Homo sapiens: one gene and its partners. The protein of the gene in region 1 purifies or fractionates together with the protein of each later gene. This does not show direct contact. Each region holds a gene or a part of one and is shown in the gene's direction. Other genes may lie near its edges. The genes, in order: FAM20B, METTL9 and TMEM59.

Region 1 (3,733 bases):
CTGAGTGCAGGGTTTTTATGAGCTCAGAAGAGAGGAAGTGTGTGCTGATTGGCCCATGGGTGGCCATGGGTGGGCCCAGAAAAAGCACCATAAGTTCTCACTGTGGTTTGCGGACTCTTAACCAGAACCGACAGCCCAGCCCCCATGCTTCAGGCCATCCCTGGCTTGAAGGTGGGGCTTCACTGGGGACCCATCCCTTTCCGCCCAGGAGCCTGCCTCCTGCCACCATTCATGTCATCCACAGTGCCCAAGCTGTTTGTACCAAGGGATGCCTGCAGGCCTACACTGAGCCATCCTCAGTCCTCCCTTGGCCTCCCTCCCATGCTCATTGGTGCCCAAAGTCCGGAGTGGGCTGAGACAGCAGGGGCCTGGTGTATCAGCACTGCCCCAACCACATATATACAGGTCACGACATCACCTGGGCTTTGCCACAATTTTGCTCCACCCCAGAGTGGGTGCGGGGAGTGGGGAGAGGCCAGGCAGCAGGAGTGGCATTTTGGAGCCTGTGGGTGTAGCTGTGGCTGGGTGGCTGCAGCTGTACCCAGGAACACGGGGCCCCTGCTCCACCATCTTGGAAGAGGGCAGGGCTCCCACCTGTTCCCAGCTCCTTCCAGCTCCGTGGAGTGTGCAGCCCTGGCCATGCCTCTCCCACTGCAGCTGGTGTCTTCGCAGCAGCTGCTCCAGTTGGGCCACTGCTGCCATCATTAGGTCCTTCTCCAGATTAGTTAATTTTAAATTATTGAACCTTCTTGAGCTCAAGAATAGAAAGCCTAAAAGGGTGAGTCATATATTAGAGGCTTACAAAAGATTCAGGGGTGGAAGGACAGAATTTTTGATCAAATTTTGCTTTGTACTTGGGCTTGCAGGAACTGTGGAAGGTGCATCAGTGAAGAAATGGACCAATGTGTATAATCATGGAATCTCCTTGCTAACCATCACCACCAGCTCTCCTTAATACATGAGCAAGAGTGGGTCAGGGGAGAAGGAAAAGAGGTCAACATGAAGCTAAAGCAGCGAGTCGTGCTGTTAGCAATTCTCCTTGTCATTTTTATCTTCACCAAAGTTTTCCTGATTGACAACTTAGATACATCAGCTGCCAACCGGGAGGACCAGAGGGCCTTTCACCGAATGATGACTGGCTTGCGGGTGGAGCTGGCACCCAAGCTGGACCATACCTTGCAGTCTCCCTGGGAGATTGCAGCCCAGTGGGTGGTTCCCCGGGAAGTGTACCCTGAAGAGACACCAGAGCTGGGGGCAGTCATGCATGCCATGGCCACCAAGAAAATCATTAAAGCTGATGTGGGTTATAAAGGGACACAGCTGAAAGCCTTACTGATACTTGAAGGAGGCCAGAAAGTTGTTTTCAAACCTAAGCGGTAAGTTTTGATCTTGGAAGCTGCATGTGCTAGTTGGTTGATTCATTTAACTTGGGATTTATATAAGATTTATTTTGTCATCTTCTCTTGGAAGTCTCTTCAGTAAAATAAGAGGGGTAGACTAGATCTCTAAAGTCTTTTCTAGCACTTAACATGAATCTACCTTTATAGTATCATATAGAATAGTCTTCCTGCCCTAAAAATCCTCTGTGTTCTACCTACTCATTTTTCCCTCTCTGCCCCAGAACACCTGGTAACCCACTGGTCTTTTTACTATCTCCGTAGTTTTGCCTTTTCCTGAATGTAATATAGTTGCAATCACAGAATGTAAGCCCTTTCAGATTGGCTTCTTTCACTTAGTAAAGTGCATTTAAGGTTTATACATATCTTTTTGTGGCATGATAGTTCATTTGTTTTTATCACTGAATAATATTCCATTGTCTAGATGTACCACAGCTTAATTATCCATTCACTTACTGAAGGACATCTTGGTTGCTTCCAAGTTTGGGGCAATTGTGAATAAAGCTGCTATAAACATCCATGTGCAGGTTTTTGTGTGGACATAAATTTTCAACTCATTTGGATAGATACCAGAAGCATAATTGCTGGACCACATGGTAAGAGTACGTTTCATTTTGTAAAAAACTGCTAAACTATCTTCCAAAGTAGCTGTACCATTTTGTGTTTCTACCAGCAATGCATGAGAATTCCTGTTGCTCCACATCCTCACCAGGGTTTGGCATCAGTGTTTCAGATCATAGCTGTTCTAATAGATCTCTTATTTCTTTCACCTGTTTTAAGTAAAGAATTGGGCCATTTTAGTTACCTTAGTTAACTAAATATGTATGTTGTTCATGATCCCTTTGGACTTCCTAGGGATCTACAGAGATAATTTGTGTGACAATTCTGTGATACAGTTAATTATTTTTATTTATTTATTTATTTCTCTACACAAGACAGCTTGGAGGGTATAGTTAATTTTCTAAAAATGTTTTCTGAGTGTATGAATCTGAATTAGGTTAACATCATGATGGTGATTTGTATTCTTTTGCCGGGAGTTAGTTACCAATGAATATTCTCAAAGTTTGTAATGTCTGAAATCTTTTGGGTACTAAACATTTTTTTCATTCCTCAGTAGAGCTTTTGAAAAAATTATAACATGACTTTAGATTTCTTTCTGGAGTGGGAGAAGAAATGTAGGGAAAAGATGGACAAAATTCAACTCCCTTTCTTACCCAACTATTAGTAAATGAAAGGCAGTCAGAGCATGAATGTATAGGGAGCCCAGAAATGGAAGGGATCACTGTTGGTCTGGAACTGGGAAATATATGTCAGTGATGTGGAAATTAGGAAAGTTAAAACATTTGGTAGACTTTCAGAGAATAAAAATTTGACTGGGGCTGGGCGTGATGGCTCATGCCTGTAATCCCAGCACTTGGGGAGGCCGAGGTGGGTGGATCACTTGAGCCTGGGTGATGTAGTGAGACTCTGTCTCTATAAAAAAATAAAAAATTAGCTGGGCGTGGTGGTGTGCACCTATAGTCTCAGCTACTTGGAAGGCTGAGGTGGGAGGATGGGAAGATTGCTTGAGTGCGAGAGTTTGAGGCCGCAGCAAGCCATGCTCGTGCCACTGCCCTCCAGCCTGGGTGACAGAGTGAGACCTGTCTCAAAAAAAAAAACCAAAAAACAAAAAAAAACCGTGGTTATGTGGGCCTGGGATCTAATTTCTGTAATGCACACTATTTGCCAGGGATTACACTAAGTACTTTTGTATCTCTTAATCCTTTAAACCCTTATACGAAGGTTTAACCTTTTTGGACAATTTCAGTTCTTATTTCCTGAATAAGAAACTGAGGTTCAGAGAGTGTAACTAACTTGACAAGGTCACCTCACATCAATCAGTGGTACAGAAGTTTGAACCCATATTTGTTAGAGTTGTAAACAGCTTGTATTCTGCCACACACATGGAATTCTCTAAGTTTGTTTGCTTCCCATAAGTGATGACGTGGAGCACTCATCATCAAAAATCGCATTTAGCTTTGAAGTTTGGTCTTTGACTTCTTGGCCTGAGAGATAAGCAGCATAAACAGAGTAATGGAAAAAGGCAAACTAAAGACAAAAATAAAATTTGTATATAAAGAGATGGCCGGGCACGGTGGCTCACGCCTGTAATCCCAGCACTTTGGGAGGCCAAGGTGGGCGGATCACTTGACGTCAGGAGTTTGAGACCAGCCTGGCCAACATGGCGAAACCCCATCTCTACTAAAAATACAAAAAATTAGCCGGGCGTTTTGGTATGTGCCTGTAATCCTAGCTACTCAGGAGTCTGAGGCAGGAGAATCACTTGAACCTGGGAG
Region 2 (3,733 bases), on another chromosome or scaffold:
TTTATTCATAGCGGGAGTTACTTACGGTAGTGCTTCTTGGCTTTGATGTACATAGGAATCACCTGGGGGTCTTGTTAAAATGCAGATTATGAGTTAGTACATCAGGGGCTAGGTCTGAGAGTCTGCTTTTTTTTTTTTTTTTTTTTTTTTTTTTTTTTTTTTAAAGACAGTCCTGCTCTGTTTCCCAGACTGGAGTGCAGTGGCAATCTGGGCTCACTGCAGCCTCCGCCTCCCGGGTTTAAGTAATTCTCATGCCTCAGCCTCCCAAGTAGCTGGGATTACAGGTGTGCACCACCACACCTGTCTAATTTTTGTATTTTTAGTAGAGACGAGGTTTCTATGTTGGCCAGGCTGGTCTCTAACTGACCTCAAGTGATCCATCCACCTTTGCCTCCCAAAGTGCTGGGATTATGGGTGGGAGCCACTGCACCTGGAGAGTCTGCATTTTTAACAAGCTCTTAGACGATGCCAGTGATGCTGAATGCTGCTGGTTCTGGACCACAAAGTAGCAAGACTCCTGGAACCAAGCCCTGAAGCTGAGGGCTTTACGCCCTTAGGCTGAAAAGTAAGATCTTTGCCTTAAACATACTTCGCAGTGGCAAATTTTTTTTGGGAGATATAATTAGTCAGCCCAACAGTGGATGATGGCTTATTTTGAGTGAAGAGTCCTGCATCTGTTCTTAAATAATGTCTAGGTTCACCAGAATTTTATGAACTTATTGTGGAATTCTCTGTCCCCAGAGTGGTTCCCTCATATAAATCCATAGAAAAAGCTTTAGGAGTTTTTTTTGTTTTTTTTTTTTTTCAATCCTTTCTTGGCCATGTTTTCAAGCATTCCTAAGGACCTAGAATCTAAAATGCCAAAGAGAAAAGCAACAGGCTCAATGGTTAAGAAGCCTCATTGGACCACTCAAACCACTGGTTGGGCCCACTTTTCTTTTCCCTTGAGGTTTGGAGCAGTTTCTACTGACTGACTGGATCCCCAGTGTATCATCTGGTCCTAAGTCTTCAGGCACCGCAAGCCATTTCTCAAGATTTCTCAGTTGATTTTCTTCATTGTTTATGTGAAATTGCCATACGTTTGCTTTGGCAAACAGTTGTTATTTTTATATGGGTGGTTGAGTTGATACAACTTGGTCTGACATTTTGTTCCTTAAATTGGTTATATTGAATTTCTGTTCTATACCATTTATTCTTCCTTTGGAATTCAGATGAGTCACTGTAGCAGAGATTCTTATCCTTTCTGGGGTCCTGTAGCTCTTTGAAAGTGATAAAGGTAGGAATCCTCTCTTCAAAAAGTGCTTACATTCAACATTTTGTGTATGATTTTGGGGGCTTCAAACTTTTATTTCCCCTTTCCTCTACCCATAAGACCCTGGTTAAAATTCCGTGCTCTAGAATTTCACAGTTTGATCAAAGAGGCAATGCAGTTAATAAACCCCTTTTGGCTTCCCTTACTTAAAACTCTTCTGCTTTTTCCTTCTGATACCCACCCTGCTTTCAGTCCTTCTTGCCTTGTGTCCCATTCTCAGCTAAAAACTAAATTTTAGGGCCCATCAGTACTTTCCGGTCATGGCAGTGGGAGATAATTACTACAGGTGGCCATCTCTCACAGAAATCATTACTGTAGTACTGTCTTGTATTACCTTAGGATACTTATCAAACTTCCTTTATTTTGGAAAGGAGAAGGCCAAGTAAGGAAAGACTTAGTAGATGTTCCAGAGTTTATTTTATAAGGAAGAGGTGCATCTCTCCGTAGACTCTTAAGTCTAGAGAGAACTTAGATTGTGATCAGAGAACCTAGGATGGTTATTAAACACTAAAGTTAAACCCAAATTAGAGGGTCATATCTCTTCATGGTTTGTGTTTATGGGAAACTTTGTATTGGGCTCAGTATTTTAGGTGATACTGTTTTTCATTGTGCGAGACTGCCCCCCACACTGCAGGAAGTCTAACTTTTCTGGCCTTGCCCACTAAATGGCAGTAGTACCCCCAGGTCCTTGTGATTACTGGAAACTCTCCTGTCTACTCCCATTGCCCCCTAGAGGGCAAAATCAATCCTGGTTGATAAACACTGGGCTTGATGGATTTTGATTTATTTTTTGACAGTGTTAATCTTTTTGTAGAGCCCCTGTTGCTAATGTTCTTTCGAAATAGGACAATGCTTCCCCTCTTTCTCTAGTGCCTTCTTTCTTTCTTTTTTGGAGACAGGGTCTCGCTCTGTTGCCTAGGCTGGAGTGCAGTGTCACAATCATGGCTCACTGCAGCCTTGACCTCCTCAGGCTCAGGCAGTCCTCCTGCCTCAGTCTCCCAGGTAGCTGGGACTAGAGGCTCATGCCACCGTGCCTGGCTAATTTTTGTATTTTTTATAGAGACGGGGTTTCACCATGTTGCCCAGCTGGTCTCAAACACCTGGTTTCAAGAGATCCTCCCACCTCGGCCTCCCAAAATGCTGGGATTACAGACGTGAGCCACCATGCCCAGCCTCTAGTGCCTATAAATGTAGACCAGTCAGATGAACTTGTGAGCTCTGAGCTCAGGTGACCTCTTGTTCTAGAATTTTATAATTATCATGTCAAGATTCCTCACATCCCAAGGAGATGGCTTGGGAAGCACGCTCTGGGAAAATTTAAGCAAAATAACTATTTTGTGACTTACTTTTGGTCCTGTGGCAAGTCAGCATCAGTATTTGAAATTCGCCTCCCCTCAGCCATGCTGCCAGTAGCCTCTTTCTGCTGTGACTGGTTTCTGTGTTAAATTTTGTACAGCTACTTCAGCAAGTTCAGATTTGCTTATTTTCTTACTGTAATATATGAACAATTGAGGATTAAAACAACTTGTCTTTTATGAGACGTGATTTTCTTTGGTAAGCAGTTGTAGTCGGTAGCATCACGTTTAGTGGTCTCTGAGGTCTTTCTCCAAATTTTTAGCATTTCTATGGGGGCAGAAGATTTACTGTAAACTTGGTTAAACTCTCCTATGGCCTTAATGGGAAAAGGAAGGGGGACTTTGTTACATGAACTCCATTATTTGTATTTTTTCCTAAAACTGGTCTTACCTTGGGCACCGTGTTGCATGCATCTTTCCAGTCACTGTATAGCAGCAAACATTCTGTACCTTATGATTGTTTCCAGAGAGCAGCAGTACAGAACAGGTTTCCCTGCCACTTCCTGGACCAGTGGTCCCCAAACTGTTTTCTAGGGTCTGAGGAGGAAGTGCCTCAGGAACTGCTTCAGGCTGCAGAGAAAGGCCTAGAAGTGGGCTGGCCACAGCTCCTGGGCTCCCAACCTCATTCGAACAGCAGCAGCTCTCTTAGGATCTTATGTTATCTGTGAGTTCCACTTCATTTAAAGAAAGGGTTCTGCTGCTTAAAGGAGGGTTGAGAATCCCTGTCCTAGATAAACTAGAATTTCAGAGCTAGAAAACAAGTCCTAAATAGGGATTGCGCTTTATTTCCCAGAGTGATGCTTCCATGAGACTTGGCTGGACCTATAGTTGCTTTTCTGAGGGTTCTCTTCAATCTCCAGTTAAACTCCCCTCAGTCTCTTTTTTCAAAGGCATCACTATGGTTTTGAGTGTTTTCTAGGACCTTTAGAAATAATAGGACCCAGACAGTTGTAACCATATAAACTGACATAAGTACGAATCTACTTTAATGCATATTAACCGACATCACAAGGACCACTCTTTTCCCTCTTTTCTCTAGTGTCTCTTAAAAATCTGTTATACTAAA
Region 3 (3,024 bases), about 130 Mb from region 1:
TCAGAAATCCCTGTGGTGCATCATGAGGCAATCTGAGCTGCTGATCAGCAGAAAACCCTGCACTGTCTGAGCTTATCTTCCAGCCAAAGGCAAACAATTTACCCTTTGTTATTAGTCTGTCTGGATTTGTCTTAGATAAATGAGCCATTTTTGTTACAAGTTTTTTAAAGATATACAGTAGTTCCATTATAATTTTTGTGGACTCAAATATCAAGTCCACATGTAGGGAATCATTGACAGAGATTTCCAGTTACTGTCACCACCACACCAAGGCAGTAATTTTGCTCAGTTCTGCCTTTATAGATCCACAATTTAACCATTCAACAACCACCTGAGATCCTGAGTGGCAGGCCCTATGCTAAATGCTAGGACCACAGTAAGACCCAGTGCCTGACCCCAATTGCTGAGACTCTGAAGGAGACTATTATTAATGTGATAAGTGCTATGACCAAGCACAGAGCACATAGGAGGAGCTGTATGCATTATGGGAGCACACAGGAGGACTTCTGGGAGAAAGTGATAGCCAAGCTTAAACCTGGAGAAAAAGGGAACGCCAAACACAATATAGAGAGCAGTGTACCAGACAGTGGGGACACTGTGCTCAAAGACCTAGAGGCCAGAGGGTGAGGCACTGCAGATTGTTGAGTAGGCCGAGATAGAGCATACAAAAGCATAACAAAAGATGGGGCTAGGCAGACCAGGTAATAAACCTGCACTTTAAACCTGCACTTGATCCTGAGCACAGTAGAGAGCCACTGAAAGATTTTAAGCAAGAGAGTGCCATACAGTGTTGGAATGATTCACTCGGACAGCAATGTGGAAGATAGACCAGAAAGGGCAAGTCCAGAGGCCAACAATAATCTTAGCCTCAGAGTTCTTTTTTTAATACCCAAGAATACTATTTCATTTTACTTATATTTTTAAACTTTTCTCTATAACGCTCTCTCTGCTCCCCCACATTGTTGTCTGGATGGTAAACCTAGGACTGGTCTCTGAGTCCTGGTCACAGCCTGGCAACAGAATGTTTGAGCAAACTGGGAAGGCTGCCCCATGGATCCCTGGTTTCTTATCACCATCCTCTTAATTCTACGTTTGCCAACCAGTCTCTAGGAAGCCAGCGTGCTCTTGCGCCCCTCCCACCAGGTTTCCAGTTGCTAAGCGTGTCATGTTTGCATTTGGGTATCATCTGCATGAGTGACCATTTTAATCTCTCTTTCCTTGACTACTTGTTCTACACTAGAGTCTAGGGTGGGGGTGAGTACAGTGGTAAAGACAGGGATAGCGGGAAATTTAGTCTTCTGTTTAGGAAGCTGGATGGTAGTGTGGATTTTCTAACTCCTTGTGGTAATTAAATTCTGGAGCACAGTTTTTAGACCTTTTCTGAAATCTGTTACTGTTGAAGTCAGCTTCATATATTTCACTTTTTTTTTTTTTGAGACAGAGTCTCACACTGTTACTCAGGCTGGAGTGCACTGGTACAATCTTGACTCACTGCAACCTCCACAGCTCCCAGGTTCAAGCGATTCTCGTGCCTCAGCCTCCCAAGTAGCTGGTACTACAGGCGCGTGCCACCATGCTTGGCTAATTTTTGTATTTCTAGTAAAGATGGGGTTTTGCCATGTTGCCCAGGCTGGTCTCGAACTCCTGGCCTCAGGTAATCTGCCCGCCTCAGCCTCCCAAAGTGTTTGGATTGCAGGCATGAGCCACTGCACCCACCCTATTTCACTATTAAGTACTCTCTTCCTGTGATATTAATGACTTATTTGTTTCAAACTTTTTTGTGCCATTGAGCTTTTTAGTGATCCAGTGAAGCCTGTGGACCCCCTCTCATAGTAATGTTTTCAAAGCATAAAACTAAATATAAAGGATCGCAAAGGAAACTGATCATGTTAAAATAAAGTTGATATTTTCAAAGTTTTATGATCCAGTAACATACATATTCTGTTAACACAAAATAAGACTGCATGGTGGTTCTAAAATTACTATAATTCAAATTCATATCTTGAAATATCTAACAACTGTAATATATCTAAATGTCTCATTTCTATTGGTGACAAAGTCACAGGTACTCTGATCCTACTGTGGACTGTTTCCTATATTCGTAATTGAAGGAAATGTTATATTTCAGTTAGAAGTTGGTGAAAAGAAAGATTTAAAATTTTTCCCATCCAAGTTCACCAGACCCCTGGTTTAGAGGTTGTCTTAATTTTACTTTTGTCATTTTAAGAGTAAATTATTTTGTTTTCTTGTTCAATTCTCAATTATTTGGGCTTATTTTACTGCCTCTTGCATGCTTTTTTATGCTTGAATGGTTTTTGCAGTGTTAGAACAGTAATAATTGAAGACTTGGGTGGAAAAAAATCAGCACCTGATTGAAAATGAAAGGTTTCAACAAAAGCTCTTGATAATGTTACCTCCAGGTGTACCATCATGCCACCATTATTGGTGCTACAAATCTGTTAATTTATTTATGCTTAAGTATGTAAACTTTAATAAAACTTGGATCATCTGCATTAAAAAATAATGCTATCTTGTAAAAGTGTCTACTTAGGTAATTCACAATGGGGTGGGTTTGTTGATTCCCCATGACATTTGCAAAGCCCTTTGTAGCACTCTCACCTATCACCTTAAATGGATTCTTATAACATCCATCTAGTGGATTAAAGACTTAAATATAAAACCCAAAACTACAAAAACCCTGGAAGACAACCTTCAGAATGGGAGAAAATATTTGCAAACTATGCATCTGACAAAGGTCTAATATCTAGCATCTATAAGGAACTTAAACAAATTTACAAGAAAAAAACAACCCCATTAAAAAGTGGGCAATGGGCATGAACAGACACTTCTCAAAAGAATATATACATGCTTCCAACAAGCATATGAATAAAAGCTCAACATCACTGATCAAAATATTTGCAAACTATGCATCTGACAAAGGTCTAATATCTAGCATCTATAAGGAACTAAATTTACAAGAAAAAACAACCCCATTAAAAAGTAGGCAATGGGCCGGGCGCGGTG

What was found.
Region 2: the proteins of FAM20B (region 1) and METTL9 purify together in Homo sapiens (affinity purification with mass spectrometry; one large-scale study listed by BioGRID and IntAct). This does not show direct contact.
Region 3: the proteins of FAM20B (region 1) and TMEM59 purify together in Homo sapiens (co-immunoprecipitation; one large-scale study listed by IntAct). This does not show direct contact.

Annotation. Positions count from the first base shown.
Region 1 is NC_000001.11:179,042,849-179,046,581, forward strand, and holds part of FAM20B (glycosaminoglycan xylosylkinase), read left to right. Parts: intron 1-866; 5' UTR 867-999; coding exon 1,000-1,376; intron 1,377-1,924; coding exon of another isoform or gene 1,925-1,993; intron 1,994-3,733. UniProt on the Homo sapiens protein: Responsible for the 2-O-phosphorylation of xylose in the glycosaminoglycan-protein linkage region of proteoglycans thereby regulating the amount of mature GAG chains.
Region 2 is NC_000016.10:21,613,043-21,616,775, forward strand, and holds part of METTL9 (protein-L-histidine N-pros-methyltransferase isoform 1 precursor), read left to right. Parts: intron 1-3,733. UniProt on the Homo sapiens protein: Protein-histidine N-methyltransferase that specifically catalyzes 1-methylhistidine (pros-methylhistidine) methylation of target proteins.
Region 3 is NC_000001.11:54,026,181-54,029,204, reverse strand, and holds the end of TMEM59 (transmembrane protein 59 isoform 2 precursor), read left to right. Parts: 3' UTR 1-2,524; downstream 2,525-3,024.